2 linked regions of the Homo sapiens genome follow. The protein of the gene in region 2 purifies or fractionates together with the protein of the main gene of each other region. This does not show direct contact. Each region holds a gene or a part of one and is shown on either strand. Other genes may lie near its edges.

Evidence for each region. The genes of interacting proteins can lie anywhere in the genome.
Region 1: the proteins of SGO2 (region 2) and ARL8B purify together in Homo sapiens (affinity purification with mass spectrometry; 3 studies listed by BioGRID and IntAct, with this or other methods). This does not show direct contact.

Annotation. Positions count from the first base shown.
Region 1 is NC_000003.12:5,125,181-5,132,728, reverse strand, and holds part of ARL8B (ADP-ribosylation factor-like protein 8B), read right to left. Parts: intron 4,270-7,548; exon of another isoform or gene 3,914-4,269; intron 1-3,913. UniProt on the Homo sapiens protein: Small GTPase which cycles between active GTP-bound and inactive GDP-bound states.
Region 2 is NC_000002.12:200,578,118-200,585,055, forward strand, and holds the end of SGO2 (shugoshin 2), read left to right. Parts: intron 1-2,417; coding exon of another isoform or gene 2,418-2,421; exon of another isoform or gene 2,422-2,551; intron 2,552-5,331; coding exon 5,332-5,347; 3' UTR 5,348-5,979; downstream 5,980-6,938. UniProt on the Homo sapiens protein: Cooperates with PPP2CA to protect centromeric cohesin from separase-mediated cleavage in oocytes specifically during meiosis I. Has a crucial role in protecting REC8 at centromeres from cleavage by separase.

The DNA.
Region 1 (7,548 bases), on a different chromosome or scaffold from region 2:
GTATACTTTGCTGTTATTATTCATTCATTCATTCATTCAGTATTTAAAGAGCTTGTCATGTGGCAGGGACTGTTCTTAGCAATGGGGTACAGCATTGTAAAATATGATAAAGTCTTGGCTCTGTGAAAAGGGACAGACTATTAGAAACAAGAGAACAAGATAATTTCTGATGGTTAAAAATAATGAGAGGAGCCGGGCGCAGTGGCTCACGCCTGTAATCCCAGCACTTTGGGAGGCCGAAGCAGGTGGATCACCTAAGGTGAGGAGTTCAAGGCCAGCCTGGCCAACATAGTGAAACCCTATCTCTACTAAAAATACAAAAAAATTAGCAGGGCATGGTGGGGAGAGCCTGAGGCTGAGGCAGGAGAATCACTTGAACCAGGGAGGCGGAGGTTGTAGTGAGCCGAGATCGCGCCACTGCACTCCAGCCTGGGAGACAGAGTGAGACTCTGCCTCAAAAAAAAAAATAATAATGATGATCATAGGGAATATGATCAATCCTAACTTAGGGCAATACCTACTACAGAAAGGATGGGAGGACTTAGGCACAGTACAGGCTCATGCCTGTACTCCCAACACTGGGAGGCCAAGGAAGGAGGACAGCTTGAGCCCAGTAGTTCAAGATCAGCCTGAGCAATACAGCAAGATTCCACCTCTACAAAAAAACAAATTTTTTTAATTAGCTGGGCATGACGGCACATGCCTGTAGCCCCAGCTACTCAGGAAGCTGAGGCAGAGGACTGCTTGAACCCAAGAGGTTGAGGCAGCAGTGAGCCATGATTATGCCACTTTACTCCAGTTTGGGTGACAGGGTGAGACCCTGTCTCAAAAAAAGGAAAGAATGACAGAAAAATTCAAAGGATAAAACTAGTCAAATCATTTCATTTCTGAAATTACCGGAACTCTGAAAAAAAGACAAAAACCAAAGTTAAACATTTCAGTCACTTAAGAGTAGAAAATAATGGCAGTAACCAAAATATTCATATAAGGGTTAATGAAAACCTGTAACGTCAATTTAATATTTTTAAGAAACGGGTAGGCTGGGTGCAGTGGCTCACACCTGTAATCCCAGCACTTTGGGAGGCCGAGGTGGGTGGATCACTTGAGGTCAGGAGTTCAAGACCAGTGTGGCCAACATCGTGAAACCCTGTCTCTACTAAAAATACAAAAATTATCTGGCCATGGTGGCGTGCGCCTGTAACCCTAGCTACTCAGGAGGCTGAGGCAGGAGAATCGCTTGAACTCGGGAGGCGGAGGTTGCAGTGAGCCGAGATCGCGCCACTGCACTCCAGCCTGGGTGACAGAGTGAGACTCTGTCTCAAAAAAAAAAAAAATTTTTTAATTTTTTTATTGAAATAAGATTGCCAAAAGCTAGAAACGAAATAGCTAAATTATGAAGGAGAGAAATGTAGGTTTCCTTTCTTTTCCTAGATTTTCCTCTGATAAGAACTATTTACAAATGATGAAGTCCATGTATTGGCATTAAAACATTCTCCGGACAAAATGAGCTTTCAAGAAAATGGTGGCCGGGCACGGTGGCTCACACCTGTAATCCCAGTACTTTGGGAGGCTAAGGCGGACAGATCACAGGAGTTTGACACCAGCCTGGCCCACATGGTGAAACCTCGTCTCTACTAAAAATACAAAAATTAGCTGGGCGTGGTGGCGGGTGCCTGTAGTCCTAGCTATTCGGGAGGCTGAGGCAGGAGAATCACTTGAATCCCCGTGCCACTGCACTCCCAGCATGGATGACAGAGTGAGACTCCATCTCAAAAACAAAAAAAGAAAAAGAAAAAAAAGAAAAGAGCGAAGAAAAGGCAGGCCTAACTATGTGTGTAGCCTAGATTTTAAGCAACCTCATTCTTAACATTATGCTACATTTTGCATACTGAAGTAAGAATATAGGTTCATAGGCTGGGCGTGGTGGCTCATGCCTGGGCCGAGGCGGGCGGATCACTTGACGTCAGAAGTTCAAGACTCGCCTGGCCAACGTAGCGAAACCCCATCTCTACTAAAAATACAAAAAATAGCCAGGCGTAGTGGCGCAAGCCTGTAATCCCAGCTACTGGGGAGAGGCTGAGGCAGGAGAATCATCTGAACCCAGGAGGCAGAGGTTACAGTCAACCGAGATCATGCCACTGCCCTTCAGCCTGGACAACAAAGCAAGATTCCATCCCCCCGCCAAAAAAAAAAACACACACACACACAAGCAAGCAAGCAGCATCCCACTATAATAGGTCCAAGATTAGGTAAGGATTATACTGAAATATATCAGGGTTATGGAATATGCAATCTACCAATACTTCTAAAACAAAATAGCAGCATGATAAGTAAAGGGGATGAGCTGTATTTATATTTACATGGCTTGCCTGGGAAGCTCAACAAAAAAGAACTATGTTCTCAGGGGCAGGCGTGGTGGCTCCTGCCTGTAATCTCAGCACTTTGGGAGGCTGAGGCAGGAGAATCTCTTGAGCCCAGGAGTTCCGGGACCAGGCTGAGCAACACAGTGAGATGAAGTCTCTACAAAAAAAAAATATATATTTTTTTTTAAGAGAATATGACCTTGGTCAGGTGCAGTGGCTCACGCCTGTAATCCCAGTACTTTGGGAGGCCAAGGCAGGCAGATCACCTGAGGTCAGGAGTTCGAGGTCAGCCTTGCCAACATGGTGAAACCCTGTCTCTACTAAAAATACAAAAACTAGCTGTGTGTGGTGGCACGTGCCTGTAGTCCCACCTACTTGGGAGGCTGAGGCAGGAGAATCACTTGAACCCAGGAGGCAGAGGTTGCAGTGAGCCAAGATCATGCCACTATACTACAGCCTGGGTGATAGAGCAAGACTCTGTCTGAAAAACAAAAAAGAGAGAGAGAGAATGTGGAGAATGTGGCCTCACTATGTTGCCCAGGCTGGTCTTCAACTCCTGGCTTCAAGTAATCCTCCTGTCTCTGCCTCCCTAAATGCTGAGATTACAAGCGTGAGCCACCACACCCAGCAGCAAAAATCTTGTTTAAAAAAATTAGCCAGGCGTAGTGACATACGCCTGTGGTCCCTACTACTTGGGAGGCTATGGTGGGGGGATCTCTTGAGCCAGGGCCCAGGAGGTGGAGGCTGCAATAAGCCATGATCATGCCACTACACTCCAGCATGGGCAACAGAGCAAGAACTTGTCTCAGAAAGAATTATGTTCTCTATAGTTATCAGTCTTGGCAGTTGCTGAAATATAAAAAGGAACTTCTTAAAATATATTAAACACAAACAGAGCAGTATCTAATAGGATAATTTTAAAATACCGTTCTACTTCATCAACAAAACTATGTTTGTCCTAAAAAATACCAGAGGACAAAGTGCTTAACCAAAGTCCAACTTTATATATGAAATCTGCTCAGTATTAGCTGGGCGAGGTGGCAAACACCTGTAATCCCAGCTACTTGGGAAGCTGAGGCAGGAGAATTGCTTGAACCCGAGAGGTGGAGGTTGCAGTGTGCCAAGATCACACCACTGCACTCCAGCCTGGGCAACAAGAGCGAGACTCTATCTGGAAAAACAAAAAACAAAAAACAAAAACTGTTCAGACCTTCTCAGTGGGAGTGTACACTTTCTGGAAAGCAATTTGGCCATATGACATAAAATGCGTTTTTGACCCAGAAATACCAACTCTGGAACACATCCTCAGGAAGTGCAGATCAAATTGAGTACAATAGGAAAACATAGGAAAAATCCCTCAAATGTCCAATAAGGGAATTACCAAATATGTTATGGCATATCCACAAGACATACCACAATGGAATAAACTATGAAGACATGAAAAATGTTTTAGATAGAAAAATGCATACACTGTAACAATTAAACCAGAATATAAAGCATTATAAGTAATATTATCTCAGAACTTTTTAAAAGACATCTGGATATACACATTAAGAAGACAAAAACGAAATGCTTTTAATGTTGACAGTAGTTAATCTTGGATGGTAGAAATAAGTGGCTTCTTCTACCTTATACTATTCTTTTCACATCTCCGCTAATGAGCCTGTATTGTTTTGATAACACAAAAAAAATTTCAGAAAAAAAATTTTTTAATAATATTTGAGTAACTTTTTTATAGGTTCAATGTATTTTGTATCCATGTTCAGTAACCATCCACTTACTATATCTTTGAAAAACTTAAAAAATCCATTAACTTGTGAAATATCTTCTAAGACAGGCATTTAGAATGCATTATTGCACTCTAACAGCTTCTTAATGAGAACATTTGGCTTTCAAGATTCTTGGTCTGCAAGGAAAAACAAATAATTGGAGCGGGGATGAAGGGTAGAAAACTTTATGGAAGGTAGAGATGTTCCTTTGTAAGATGCCTCATTTTCCACAACTCAGAATCTATACTTGAAGACCACCTTATTGGAAGACTAGCTTCTCCAGTCAAGTTTCAGATGTGTAAAACATCTAGACTTGAACCACAGCCCATTTTCTTTAAAAATGGTTTTTGCCATTCTTACCTCCAAAGAAATTAAATAATAAGCAATACAATCAAATACAAAATTATTTCTGCTTTTTTTTTTTTTTTTTTTTTGAGACGGATTTTCACTCTGTTGCCCAGGCTGGAGTGCAGTCGCTCAATTTCGGCTCAACGCAACCTCCGCCTCCCAGGTTCAAGCAATTCTCCTGCCTCAGCCTCCTGAGTAACGCCAGGCTAATTTTTGTATTTTTAGTACAGATGGGGTTTCATCATGTTGGTCAGGCTGGTCTCAAACTCCTGACCTCATGATCCGGCCGCCTTGGCCTCCCAAAGTGCTGGGATTACAGGCGTAAGCCATTGCGCCTGGCCCTCCGCTTTTTTTTTTTTTTTTTTTTTTTTTTTTTGAGACGGAGTCTCGCTCTGTTGCCCAGGCTGGAGTGCAGTGGCGCAATCTTGGCTCACTGCAAGCTCTGCCTCCAAGGTTCACGCCATTCTCCTACCTCAGCCTCCCGAGTAGCTGGGACTACAGGTGCCCACCACCACACCCAGCTAATTATTTGTATTTTTAGTAGAGACGGGGTTTCACCGCATTAGCCAGGATGGTCTTGATCTCCCTCTGCTTTTTAAAGATACTAAAAGTAGTTCAACAACTCAGTAATGCCTGTTAGCCAGTTATTTAAATATCCAAACATAATATTCCACTCTTACTTTCCACAGATTATCATTCCTTCTCCTAATTCATGTTCATAGATAAATATATAGTCCTCAAATGTTAGTCAGTATGCTTAAGATGCCTGGATTTAAAATGCTCTCTCTAGAGAGACACACAGTACTCATTACGTCTGTATTTCTTATTCTATAAAGCAAACATTTCATATACGATACAAAAACTGCAGCTGATTTTTTAAATTAAATTAAATACAAAAAAGATGTTTAATGGATTAAGATCTCCCAATCCACAGTTCTATGGTTCTAACCTCAGCTGGATCTAAAGAGGTGGGAAAAGTAGAAAGTACACTGGCCCCAGATTCTAATTCTATCTCTGCTACGAATTAGCTTTGTTGCCTTGGAATTCCACTTAACCTCACTGGATCTGCTAGCCACATCTAAAAAATGAGGGGAAAATTAGACTACTTAATCAAGGTTTCTACAAACTCTTTAAAAAATGATTCTAGGTTCATATTTCTACAGTCTTCCCAAATATCTTCTTTTCCTAATTCTCAGCAGTAATAAACTTTCCCTTGGATTAACCTTTCAGGTATCAACAATGTGCAAAAGTGTAGACAAATTTTTATACTTCCATTTAAAAAATACATAATGTCCATAAGATTTATCCTATATTATTTTGGCAAATCCTATTAGATATTTTTTAATAACTATAACATATCTAAAAGCCCCAGTTAAAAATAAAGATTACTCAATATACATTACACATATAGGCACATGACTTATTGTGCAATAACTGCCAGAACAGTTAGCAATGGAAAAAATACTTCATTCCTTGACACTAATCAGAAAAGACAAGACTAGGGTGTTTCTTTTTTATAATGTTCAAAACAAAAGAGAACACTACATATATCAAGTGTCTCTACATAAAACTGGATTAAATTAGGTATCATTTCAGTTTTAAAATCCTAAGGAAAGGCATTCTAAGTCTGAGCATTCTGTAACTAAGCTGCATTATCTTTTAGACTCAAACCAAACCCTACATATAATAGTAATTCAGTCTCATGAACCTTTTGAGTAAGTTAAATGACATCTATTAAATCTTCCTTAATGTTTAAGGCACATGTAGTGACATTTTAATGTTTACAAAATGTTGATTTTTACAAAAAGAAAATTGGCTTCAGCTGAAGCTTTTCATACCTGAGAAGTCGCTTCTTAAATGTGAATAAGTAAATGGTCACCTTTCTAGAGTGACACATAGTACTCAATACATCTGTATTTCTGATTCTATAAAGCAACTATTTTATATACAATACAAAAAGTGCAGCTGATTTTTTAAAAGGCTAAACTTACTATTTTGGACACATTGTTTCTACCTAAAAATCTCTAAAATCATCTTTAATCACTAACTTGGATTTTAATCACTACATCCTCAACATATTCTATAAGAATCAGGGGTTAGGTTAGAGCCTTGAGGTTAAAAAAAAAAAAAAGTATGAAATTCACTGAGGGGGTCCCTTTCAGCATCTTAAAAGCCACAGCCAATTACAGCCCAGATGTCTTTTTTCTTTTTTAAATTAATATTACTTTTAATTGACAAATCATAATTGTATACATTTATGGAGTACAATGAGATGTTCTGATACATGTTTACAGTGTGGAATGACTAATTCAAGCCAATTACACATCCATCACCTTATCTTTGTGACTTTTTTTTTCTTAACTGAAGCTACCCACACCATTACAATTTTAAAAAGAATAGTCTAATGATAACAGTGGGCTGGGCACAGTGGCTCACGCCTGTAATCCCAGCATTTTGGGAGACCAAGGCAGGCATATTACTTGAGACCAGGAGTTCGAGAACAGCCTGCCCAACATGGTGAAACCCCGTCTCTACTAAAAATACAAAAATTAGCTGGGCATGGTGGCAGTCGCCTGTAGTCCCAGCTACTCGGGAGGCTGAGGCACGAGAATAGCTTGAACCCAGGAGGCAGAGGTTGCAGTGAGCCAAGATCATGCCACTGCACTCCAGCCTGGGCAACACAGCGGGACTCCGTCTCAAAAAAAAAAAAAAGATAATGGTGGAGCCACTGGTTCACTTTGACTTCAACAGCTTTGCAGAAGTTTTGTTGTTGTTAAATATAATAATCTAATGGTGGGGGCGGGGCAGGGGGGAACACATGATGCGATTACTTTCCCCAATCCATAAATCCACTACTGCAGCCCACATCTGGATAGATACAGTGATTCAAAGTAGAAAATGATACCAGTTGAGTCCCTTCTCAGTATTTTTCAAGCCATCGTTCCTGCATTAAACAGGTACGCCCAATTACAAATAACAACAGTTACCATCTACCTATCCCCTTCTGTGGGCCAGTATGAGTGCTAGCCACTTAACATCTTTCATGTCATTTAATCCCTAGAGCAACT
Region 2 (6,938 bases):
TGGAATTCATCTGTAAGGAAGAGTTGTCTTTTCTATAGATATAGATATAGATATAGATATAGATATATATCGTGGGTATCTCTTTTGTTCTATAGATGAAAGTCCAATGCCATCAATATTTATCTTGTTGCTCAAGTTATTCCAACTTTGACCACTAAGAGTTCCTTCAGGTTGGCTTCCGTGTCCTTTTGACATGACTTCATACTATTTGGAGCACTTTCTTACTTTCTGACACACAGGATGTTCCAGTATGTCATAGTGGCTTAATCCTAGTGGCTTAAGTAGCAATCTGGATGCAGCTTAATTAGGTGCTCTGCTTAGGGTCTGACAAAGCTGCACTAAAGGTGTCGTCCAGGCTGGTTCTCATCTGGAGGCTGTGCTGGGGAAGAATCTGCTTCCAAGTCACACAGGTTGTTGGCAGAATTCATTTCCTTGTGGTTCTGGACAGAGGGCTTCATCTTCTTCTTGTTGACTAGAGGCTGTCCTTAGCTTCTTGCCACACGGCCTCCTTTACAGCATGGCCACTTACTTCAAAGCCAGCTGTGGAGAATCTCTAGAGCAAGTCCTGTAGCAGGATAGAGTCTTATATAACAAAATGTCATCTCGGAAGTGAGACATCTCATCACCTTTGCCAGTGGTCTCCTTGTTTATTGTAGAGGATCTATAGTATGTTTTAATGTCTGGTAGGGCTAGTATCCTCTCATGGTTTTTCTTTTTCATTGTTTCCCTCACTGTTCTTGAATGTTTGTTGTTACAAATGAATCTTAGGATGGTATTGACTTGTCTGGCTCGGTTTCATAACCTTGGCACTGTTGACCTTTGGGGCTAGGTATTTCTCTTTTATGGGAGGCTGTCCTGTGTATTGTAGGATGTTTAGCTGTATCCCTGACCTCCATCCACTAGATGTCAGTAGCACCCTCACATTTATAACAACCAAAAATGTCTCCATATGTTGCAAAATTTCAACTGGGAGGCAAAAGCATCCTGAGTTGAAAACCACTGGTCTATAAGTATTTAGTTTTCTTTGTTGCTATTATATATGGACATGTAACTGATGCCCAATGTTGTTCGTATATATGAAAGCTGTTGAATTCTGTGTCAGTTTATATCTTGTTACTTTCTGAACTCTGTTATTCTCTTATCTCACTGATTGTCTTGAGTTCTCCAGGTATAGTATGATATCATCTGAAAATAGAGATAGTTTTACTTCATTACCCTGTTTGTATGCCTCTTACTGTTTTTATATTAGCATTGGCTAATAACTCAGGTACAATGTTAAAATAGTAGCAGGAATAGTAGGCATGCTTGCCTTGTTCCTGATTTTAGTAGAAATGCTTCTGTTGAAGTATTTTTGTCTCTCCATTAAACAAGATACTTGCTGTAGGATTAAGATATGTACATAATTTACTAAGAAAATGCCCCTTGATGCCTATTGAGTGTTTTTATCATGAATGATTGTTGAATTTTGTCAAAGGCTTGTTCAGCATTTATGAAGATAGTAATATACTTCATTTACTTACATGTATTAACATGGCATCTGTTGATGAGTTTTCCAGTACCGAACTAACCTTGCTTTCCTGGAATAAATCTCACTTGATCACGGAGTATGTTTTTCATAATGTGATGTTGAATTGAGTTTGCCAAAATATTTTGTTTAGAATTTTTATATCAACATTCATAACTGATGTGAGTCTATAGTTACCCACCTTTGAATTGTCTTTATCTGGCCTAGGTATCATATTAAGGGAATCAAGAAAGTCACCATCTTGGTTCCTTTAATGAAATAATTTATATTTCATTATAATTTATAGTGCATTATAATTTATGTTTATAATTATTTGTATGTTATATACTTATATAATTTTAGAACAGTGGGACTCTCTGGTTTTTGTAAGTTTGTTAGCATCCCCCTCTGAAACCATCTGGACCTAGTACTGTTTTGTGTGGGATAGTTCCTTAATAACGTTGACTGTTTTTTGTGTGTATGAAAATTAGTCTGTTTAAGCTTTTTTGCTGTAATGGGGTCAATTTTTGTTATTTGTATTTCCACAGGAAATTATCCATTTCATCTAAGATTTCAAATTTATTTGCATAAAAGTCTGCAAAGTATCTTTTATGAATTAGACATGTAAATTAATTTTAAATCTTTTTTCCCATAATTATTTTACCTATATCATTTATTATTTTTTGTGTTTGTTCTTTTTCTCTTTTTCTTGATCAAATTAGGTAGTAGTTTATTTATTAACTTTTCCAAAAAATCAGTACTTTGATTTACTAATTGGATCTATTTTTCTGTTCTCTACTTCACTGACTTCTGCTTCATATTTATTATTTCCTTCTTTGTGTTTTCTTTGATTTACTTTATTATTGTTGTTTTCCCATTAAAATTTATTGTTTTTATTCTTTCATTTATATAGATAACAGTGTTTTATGGACAGGCACAGTGGCTCACACCTGTAATCCCAATACTTTGGGTGGCTGAGGTGAGAGGATCACTTGAGCCCAAGAGTCGGAGACCAGCCTGGGCAACACAGGGAGACGCTCACTCTACAAAAAATTTAAAAATCAGCCAGGCACATTGGCATGTGCTTGTAGTCCCAGCTGCTACTAGAGAGGCTGAGGTGGGAGGATAGTTTGGGCCTGGTAGGTCAAGGCTGCAGTGAGCCATGATTGTGCCACTGCACAGAGAAAGATCCTGACTCAAAAAATTAAAAATAAAAATAAGTAAATAGAACACACACAAAAAAATTTTTTTTTAAAGTGTCTTTTGCAATCAATTTTTCTCTGATCAGTGCTTTCAATGTATCTTGATTCTGATACATAGTGTTTTCAATGTCGTTTTTAAGTTTCTCCTTTTCTTTAGGAGTTATTAGGAGGTTTTAAAAATTCCAGGTAGATGAACCTTTCTGGTTTTTTGTTTTTATTTGTAAATCTAGTTTTATTGCATTTTGGTCAGAAATTATTTATTGTAATATTTCTGCTTTATGGAAATTGCCAGTATTTTCTTTGTGACCTACTATAGGATCAGCATTTATAACTGTGCTGTGATTGCTTAGATGTATATTCTCCATAATCAAGGTCTAAAGTTTGATATATATCCATGAGATTTACTGTATTTATTATGTTGCTTAGATCTTCTGTTTCTTATTTTTTGTAAATAAGTGATCTGTTTTGTACTAAGGTTATACTAAGAGTTGTATATTAAAATCTACTGTGTCCTGTGTTTCCATGTATCTCCTGTAGTTTTTGCTTCAGAAGGGTGGTTGCTCTGCTTTTTGCTATGTAAATATCATGATTATTACTTATTCATTTTGGATTATGGCCTTTATTATATTAAAAATGTCCTCATTTGTCATGTTCAGTGCTCTGGACTAAAGACTTAAAGTCTTTAAGATATAAAGACTTTAAAAACATATTTATGAGACCTTCCTGATAACTCCTACCACTCCTATCTTCAATACCTATGATGATCATTCCATAATAGCAAGCAGCTTTAATTAGGATGTACTTTCATGGGAGCTACTAGAAGCTGTGATATACCTAGTGTATACCATTTCCAATCCAAAAAGAAGGAAGAAAAAAAAGTGGCAACTGGATGGTCATCACTCGGAATTTATACTGAATGTTGTGGCTTTTGCTTTTAAAAATTTTACCAACTAAGCTGTATAGCAAATCATCTGCATGCACTGTACATTTAAACTAAAATAGAACCTTATTTCCTTACAGCATTTTGCTGTGTTTTATTTAGAATAGGTACTTCTTTTGAAAGGATTAATTAAACTCTATCTAATTACCCAAGGCAGTGGTATCACACTGGCTCTGAAGAGGAGTACGAAGGAGTGAAAGAGACCTTTCCACCTAATCTTGTATACCTTTTTAAATTTGGGACCATGTCTATGTATTTCATCTAAAAACCACATTTACACACATGCATGTAAAATATAACTAAACTCCATAACTTGAAACATGATGTATTAGGTGCAGGAATCTACCCTCTTACTGAAAAAATAAAATTATTGGGTAAAATACTAAAAAACATACCTTGAATGCATTTCTTAACTAATGACTATTAGCCAACCAACATTTCTTTTAGTAGGAAAGTAAGAAAAGCTCAGATCAAAGATCAAATGATAGCAGGAACTCAGAGGGGAACTGACCTTATCCTGAAGATATTTGTCTAACTAGGTGAACCTAAACATTGCATTCACAACCCTATGGGGCTAGGGACAGAAGACAAATCCTAGGGTTTATCCAAAATAAATAGTCTAATAGATCTTCTTCCATAAAGTTGATCTACTTTCTCAGTAAAAGAGCAAACTAAAAATAACCTCCCCACTAGCTTGCTCAGCCCCAGGAAATAACTTGGGTGCTGAATTAAGGAGGAAAAAAATCTTTCCTTAGAATTCATAACCAAAATACAGCCTTTATTGCAGATTATAGCTGGAATTCACAATATTTCGAAGGCAAAAAAAAAGTTAAGCTGAGGATTTAGTATAATTAGTGCATGAACTATAGTGCTCTGTTGTCTATTAGAAGCAAATATTTTGTAGGGAGTTGTCCATCTCACACCTCAACATGTTTTGCACAGCCAAAGTTCCAAGGAAAATGAAGGGCTACCTCATAGTAAAGAAAAACATTACATACACAGGGGAACAAGGTATCAGCAGAAACAGCAATCAGACACAGAATATAAAATGTTTAATGTTTCAATAAAGGAGAGGCTTGAAAATGAATGAAGATGTTGAGTGGAAAAAGTCACAGAAAAACACCTACAGTACGATTCCATTTATATAAAGATATCTATCAAACAGATAAAACCAAACAATATACTTTGTGGGAGAGCAATACACAAACGCTTAAAACAAAACTGTAAAGAAAGGAGTGATAATAGAATTCAGGATAGTGGTCCCTTTTTGGGGGAGGAGAGGGTTGTGATCAGAAAGGGGCATATTGGAGGTGTGGTAATATTTTGTTTCTTAACCTGGGTGTAGGAACATGAGCATTTACTTTGTTTTTAAATGGTATATTTTCACATGTTCTTGAACATATGCTAAATTTCTAACAAAAAGGAACTATGTAATAAACATGTAATATATAAAATCTATGTTGATTAATTTTTCTTAAATATTTGAAATGAATTATTTGAAGTACTCTGATAGTGAGAACTATAAGATTTAAGAAAAATTAGAGTATTTCAAGTATTTAACAAAGCTTATGGTTTAAGGAAACTTCTTTTCTACTGATATGATGAAACAATTTTCTTCTCCATGCTTCACAGCAAAAGCATTAATTTTGGGTTGTTATTAATCTTCCTTTTTTTCTACTTTGCAGCAAGATGAGAAGATGAAGTGAATTTATGGATTCTGGTTTTTCTGAATTTTCAAAGCATAAGGAATCAAAACAGAAATATAGTATCAAGAAGATGAAATGCTTAATGAAAAGGTTTTTTTTTTGTTTCTTTGGCCTTTCATGGAGTGTTGATTTGTCCATTCTTAATGTTTATTAATAGGTATATGTGCATAAAATAGCTATTTTGTAACATTAAACTTTTTGAGTCATTTTGGTCATCATATAACTTACCTTCCTGTTTATTTAAGCTTCTTTTTACCTAGTAGCCTTTAACCAAACAATAACCTTTTAACCAAATAAAATGTGTTAATAAATACCTTTGCATTGGTTATCTTGTATACTAGGCTGTCTTGTTTTGCTGTCTGTTTTTAACCCATTCAATATATGTGGACATCCAAAAGGGTTTAAAAGCCACCTCCTGCCCTGGCCCGTTTTCTCTCCCTTCATTCTTCTGTTTTCAGAAATACATGTTGAATGTCAGCTTCTGTATTATTTCTATTATATGTAATCTGATGACTTAGAGGAGGAGATTAACCTTTCAGGCTCTTTTGAATTTGGTTTTTATAATTTGGTTTTAAAGATCACTTACTCTTCCAGTAATAAGTAGTAATAAATCCTGTTCATATCTGAGATCAATACACAGTTTATTGAATTCAAATGACTACTCAAACTCTATTCCACCTAGATGGAAAACTTTTTTAGACAATATCTGACCACTAACGCGGTGGGCCCAGAAATCTGCATCTTAATCAGATGCTTCAGGTGAGTCCGTCCGAGGATTGTCCTAGTACCACACTTTGAGAGACTGCAGTGGGGGTACAGAGTGCTGGAGGGGTTTAGTCAATAGCTCTAGTGAAGGATGGATAGTTTTATTCAAAGAATCCCAGTTGATGAATGAAGAAGAAATGCTAGAATTAGAAAAATTGCAAACCCCTATTAAAACTACCGCTCAGGCAATGCTCAACAATGGATGTAAAACAATTAGGTGAAATGTTGATGGAGAAATTCATTACAAAGGAATAGCCCTCTGAACCCACTGATCAATGTTAGCATCATTACGAATGAAACAACCAGACACCATATGCTTCCTGCTGTGCTGCAATATTAATTATATGGTACCACCTATGAAGTGTTCTTGCCCTCTCCCCCCCAAAAAATTGAACCTGAATTTAATCAAAGCTTTAGATCTAATATTTAGTGCATAGGAAATAAGTAGAGTAGAAAAACAATACCAGGGAGAAGCAATTAGCCACATTCAAAAAATGGTTCATTTCAATAGAACAACTGACCTGGTTTCTTTTTCAATGTGTTAATAGTGTTAAAAAGTCTGTTTTAGATCAAAAGAGACTGATGAGACCACATGCAAATACATTGCACAGCTCTTGTTTGATTCAAAGAAGTCAAGTGTAAAAGACATTTTTTAGACACGTGAAATGGTGTTGCGGCTGACTAAAAGGATGTGTATGTGTGTTTTTGAAGTATTTAGGGCTAAAATATGTCCAGGATTGGCTTTTAAATACTACAAAAAATGGAGTATGCCAAAACGTTGACCATTGTTAAAGCTCAGTGAAGGGCAGGTAGATGCCAAT